2 separate regions of the Homo sapiens genome follow, and region 1 is linked to region 2. The links come from fine-mapping of genetic effects on gene expression. Tissue or cell type: whole blood. Region 2 holds a variant in brackets; the other region holds the start of a gene. All regions are shown on one strand. Distances are between the middles of the regions.

Region 1 (2,681 bases), 95 kb before region 2:
GCGAGGGGCTTGGCTGGGAAGAGGACTGCAGGAGAGGTGTCCCAACTCTCCCCTCGCTCGCCAGGCACACAGCACGCGCCTACTCGGTGCTGGCTGCATAGAAGCCCAGGGAGCTCGGGCCGATCTCCCAGTCTGGTTGCCACCAGACTGGGTGGCAGGAGCTTCTAGACCTGGAGGCTGGCTCAGTCGTGTGGTCACGACGGGCGGGGGAGTGGAAGGGCGCTGGCGCGTGGTTTCGGCAGCCGACTTGGCGAGGCCGCGGCTGGCGGGAACCACGGATGGGGGAGGCGCCCATGCACCGACCCCACCTGGGCCACTGGGAAACCGAGGTAGTCCCTCCTGGCACTGGGGTCGCCCCCACACACCTCCCCAGAAGGAGATGTAGGGTCTGTTTCTGAACTGAGACCCGCCCCCGAGTAGGGCGCACACTCAGCAGAGACCCTCCACACCCAAGCCCCTGGGAGGGGATCTTTTTTGCACACCTCCCTCCCACTTATGCCCCCTCTCAACCCTGCATAGACCTTTCTCAAAAAGGCGCCCGTTGGTTCCCATAACCCTCCCCCTCCCCCAGGATGGAGACCCCTGATGGGAGATAGGGGTGGTGAGAGGGGGCGGGCGCAAATGAAGATGCGCGCGACCAGGACCACCTCTTGCTGTCACCCGCCACGTCCCCAGCATCTGGACCGCGTCCCCCGGCCCGCCACGCGCGCACACACACACACACGCGCACACACACACGCTCACACTCACCCTGCGCGCAGACCCCGCCCGCGGCCCCGCCCCGGCCCCTGCGGGCGCCCCCTCTGGCGTTCCCGGGCGGCGGGAGGCTGCGGCTTCGGGCAGATTTGATTTTCCCGCAGCCCGGGCGCCCCGGAGCCGAAGCCCGAGCCGAGGAGGTGGCGCTCGCAGCCGCGTCTCAGCCCCGTCGCCGCCGGCGCCAAGACCCAGGGAGAGGCGGCGCAGCCCGGGCGCTCGGGCTCCGCGCTGCCGGCGCCCCGCCACCCCCGCCGCCAGCGCCCCATCCGGCGCCTCCCGCTCCTCACGCCCCTCTCCCTGTCTTCTGCATCCCCTCTACCTCTGCCCACAGACGCGCGTCCCTCTCCTGGTGCCCCTCTCCACGACTCCGCGTTTCCCTCCCGGTGCCCTCTCCCCGAGCCCCTCTCCCCGCGCCCCTCTCTGCCTTCCCCGCTGTGCCCCCGCTCCCTGGGCTCCTTGCCCTTCCCCACTGGGCCCCTAGCCTCCTCGCGGCGTCACCCGAGCCCCCTCCTCGATCCGCGGCCCCCGCTCCCTCCGCCCTCTTCCCTCTCTCACTTCCCACGCCCCCTCTTCGCGCTCCTCTCTCCTCCCCTTGCCGCCCAGCCCAGGCTCTGGAGTTGGGGGAGAGCCCAGGGCTCCAGTCGCTCCGGAGGAGGCGTGAATCGCGCAGGGATTGACTAATTTGGGGTGGGGGGTGCGGTGGGCGATGGAGCAGCCTGAGGACATGGCGTCGCTGAGCGAGTTCGACTCCTTGGCGGGCAGCATCCCGGCCACCAAGGTGGAGATCACCGTGTCCTGCAGGTGAGCCTCCCGCTGGCCGGGTCCCCTTGCCCCGGCCCTGGACGCAGAGCCCCGCGGCCCCTGCCGCTTCGATCCTAAACCTCCGCGCGCCCCCTTCCCAGAGTGTCCTGGTCTCCAGGACTGCGCCCCTGCCGATCTGCCAAGAGCCCCTGTCCTGTCCAGCTGCGGGTGGCGACGGCAGAATAGGAAGCCAGGCTGGGGTCATATCCCAGAAAGTTTGCGCTCCAGGCTGTTGCATCGAGGAGATATGAAGACACAGGAACAGGGGGTCCAGGCACCCAAGTGGGGAGAGGGAGTTGGTAAAAGGCTGTACTACGGTCTCTGCTCAGGCTATCTCTGATCACCCCATCCCCAAATCACGAAGTGAGTGATTTGCCCCCATCCCTCCCAGGCTCGTCCACCCTCTCCCTTCTGTGCCCTCCTCTCTTCTCTCTTTGCCCCTTCTTTGCCCCAGCATCCTGATCCTCCCCTCACCAGTCTCCCCCACCCCACTGTCCTAGACTCTAGGATTTTAAAGCCTTCCTTCATCTCTATCAACAACGAAATCGACTCCTGGAAAAGGATCAGATTGACTCATTCATACTAAGGTGTGGATACATGATAACAACTTAAAGTGGCACCATTAAAAAAATAACTTGGGTCAAAAATCTTAAGCCAAAGGAATAGAACACTGATTGTGAAACTGTAGAGTCCAACAGAGGAGGAGGGGGAATATTTTTGTGGGCTACCACGCCCAAATCTTCACTCATGTCACACAGGGTTTGGGGGTAACTTCTCTGTCTAAGAGCTGGGTCGACCCCAGGTTCTCCTAGCTAGGGGAAGGCTGCCCCTGGCAGTAAGAGGGTATGGGTGGCAAAGGGGGATTTTTCCCTAGTTCAGTCTCTCTGTGGCTGGCCTAGGATCATGTGCTGCCACGCAAGCATCACCCACTTTGAGGTTCCCCCACAGAGGCCATGCCCCCTGCCCCAGATCACCGACAGCATTTCTGGAGCCCTGGCTGTGCCCTTGTTCGAAATCACCCATCTCATCCTCTTCCAGGTTGCTCCTTGGTCAGACCCTCCATGAGAGGTAACCTTGTTGCCCCCCAGTCCTGTATTACAAAGTTGTGGCATTGATGAGGTGTA
Region 2 (2,681 bases):
CCCATGCCTGAGGGTGCAAGGTGCTGTGCTGGGCCCAGTGTGCACGTGGACAGATCAGCCACAGGTCCTTCCTGAGTTGCTGAGACCCAGCAGTCATTTTAGGGCAGAGTGGATTTACCCAAGGTTCCCTGAGGGAAGCAGCCAGGGATCTTGGGGCATCTCTGAACAGGTACAGGGAGCCGGGTAAGGAGCAGGTTTGGACCCAGCTCACCTGAAGCATGCACTGCTTCAGGATGGGCCCTGGGAGCTCCCTCCCCTGCCCCGCCACCCCACACCAGAGAAGACCTGGGGGAGCCCAGGCCTGCTGGCCTCCCCACCTGGACTCAGTTCCCACACATCGTGCACCCCTGTCCTTCCTTCCTGGGCTCAGCCTCCCTGCCCTCTGTCCCCCAGAATGGCAACCAGGAGAACCCCTCATGCTGTGGCATCGACGGCATCCTGGAGGCCTACCACCGCAGCCTGCGCACTGTGCAGCTGTACGGCCCCACCAACTTTGCCCCCGTGGTCACCCACGTGGCCAGGTGAGTGCCGCTGCCACCGCCTCCAGGCACTCACAAGGCCTCTGTTTCCACACCAGCTCTGCCTCTGGGTGGTGGGAGGGGGTTTCTCTTCCCACGCACTTGCCTTTCAGGGAGCCCTGACCCTGAAGAGATTCCCCCAAGAGCTGTCACCCTCCAAAGTGTTCAGGGTCCTTGTTTAGGGGGGAACATGCCCAGAGGTCCCGCAGACAGACCTGAGCCCACACCTGCCCCACCCAGGAATGCAGCGGCCGTGCAGGATGGCTCCCAGTACTCGGTGCTGCTCATCATTACTGATGGGGTCATCTCGGACATGGCGCAGACCAAGGAGGCCATTGTCAACGTAAGCAAGGAGTGTGCGGTGGGGGAGGCGGTTTGAGGAGTGTCTTCCTCCCCGTTAGGGGAACCCTGGGGATGTGCCTACCTCCTTGACCTTAGGGAAATGCTTGGAGATGACTTGGGCGTGGCTTCTCATTTCCCTGCCTCACTGGGCCCCACTGCCCTCATCCACCTTCTGGCCTCTGGCTGCAGAGTCCGGTGCTGGATAGTGGATTCTAGCGGGTGGAAGGGGTGCCCAGATCATGAGAGATCTGGCTGGTGAGCTCTGTTCCCACCTCTTAGTCACGCTCTGGTCTACTCCCTCCAGACC[C/G]CAATGACTCCCTCATTAACCCATCTCTAGGACCGCTTCCCCCTTTCCCAGGCCAGCCTGGCCAGGTCAAAGGAGTGGGAGGGGAGGCTCAGAGTTGGGGAAGCTCAGGAACATGGCTCCCCAAGCCGGTGGTCTCCCTGTAAGAGGGGATGGGGGTGACTCACCAAAGCAGACCTATGACCCATTCCCCCTGCCACCCTCCCTCTCTCCTCCAGGCGCAGCCTGGTTTCCTTTGCTCTTTATCTCTGAGTGCCCTCCCTCTCCCTACCCCCTTTTCTGTGTTTCTCTGTCTCTCCATGTTCACTCTCCCATTTCTTTCCTGCCCACCCCTTCCTGTCCTACCCCTGATTTCTCCTTCCTTTTAACTGGGTCCCAATTGGGTCCAACCTTTCCCTGCCCCCCATGCTGTCTCCCAGGCTGCCAAGCTCCCCATGTCCATCATTATCGTCGGCGTGGGCCAGGCAGAGTTCGACGGTGAGTCCAGCTGCTGCCTTCCCCTCCTTTCCTTCCCTAGCCACGCAACCCTGCCCCCACCCCAGATGTTTCCCCAGAGGCTGTGGTCCCCTGGGAATGACCCCTCCCAAAAGAGTGAGAGCTCCCGCCTGGGCGTGTGTGTCTGGGTGAGTGTGCAGGGTGTGGGACGCATTTGTTTGCTCAGGGAAGGGTGTGTCAGGTCTGGGTGTGCACCCACACCCACATCCCAAGGCTGTGGGGAGGAGGCCCCAAGTCACTTCTTTCTCCTCCAGCCCTGGGAGTCTGGGGAGGGTGGTGAACCAAAGCACTGGGCTCAAAGTCAGAGGCTCACCTGATCGGGCTCCTCCTGGCCCCTGGCCTCAGTTTCCTCATCTCTAACACGGGGCATGGGCCAGTGGTCTCGGCCCTGGATTGGCCTGGGATGAAAGGACAAGTCCACTCTCCTGCTAGGGCCAGGGGTCCACCGTTAATCTCACCCCGCCCCATGACACTCCTCCCCTCACAGCCATGGTGGAGCTGGATGGCGACGACGTGCGGATCTCCTCCCGGGGGAAGCTGGCTGAACGCGACATCGTCCAGGTGAAGCCCAGGCCTTGCCTGCCCCATGGGAAATTCAAGAGCCCCTCTAGCCAGGCGGACCTCACACCCCCTTTGGGGGCTTCCCTGGTGAAGGGCCCAGAAGGGAGGCACTGGGAGCCCCAAAGTGGCCCAGCCACCACCGAAGGGAGTAGGAGTCAGTCCTCGGCCATGCTGTGGTCTGGGCTGGGCCCCCCTCTGTCACATCTGGGACACACTCCTAACATTGCGGGTGCCCAGCCAGAGGCCAGAACCCTCTGCCAGCCCTTCCTCAGCCTCCAGGCCTCTGTGGTCAGCCTCGTTCTGGTTTTTTTCTGCCCCTTGAAGGCTGAGGCAGTGTCTTTAGTGTTGCTGCAGCCTTCTCCAAGAATAGGCATTGCTCGGTTAACTGAATCAATGTAAGCATCTCCATGAACGGTGCAAATATAATGAGCAGAAAGACCTTTGTCCTCAGGGAATTCCCA

The links. PIP is the estimated chance that this variant, and not a neighbour inherited with it, causes the effect.
Region 1: it holds the start of CPNE5, and the variant in region 2 is fine-mapped to the expression of CPNE5 in whole blood (INTERVAL, PIP above 0.99).

Annotation. Positions count from the first base shown.
Region 1 is chr6:36,838,159-36,840,839 of GRCh38, reverse strand. It overlaps CPNE5 (copine 5), which reads left to right and starts at 1,396. Exons shown (of 21, transcript NM_020939.2): 1 at 1,396-1,557. The coding sequence starts at 1,463. RefSeq lists an enhancer at 1-38 and a silencer at 723-932.
Region 2 is chr6:36,743,228-36,745,908 of GRCh38, reverse strand. It overlaps CPNE5 (copine 5), which reads left to right. Exons shown (of 21, transcript NM_020939.2): 17 at 394-521; 18 at 759-861; 19 at 1,584-1,641; 20 at 2,147-2,220. Among named protein-coding and RNA genes, the nearest start is that of RAB44, 47 kb to the right of the region's middle. RefSeq lists a silencer at 776-976. The variant C/G (reference allele first, on the strand shown) is at 1,168.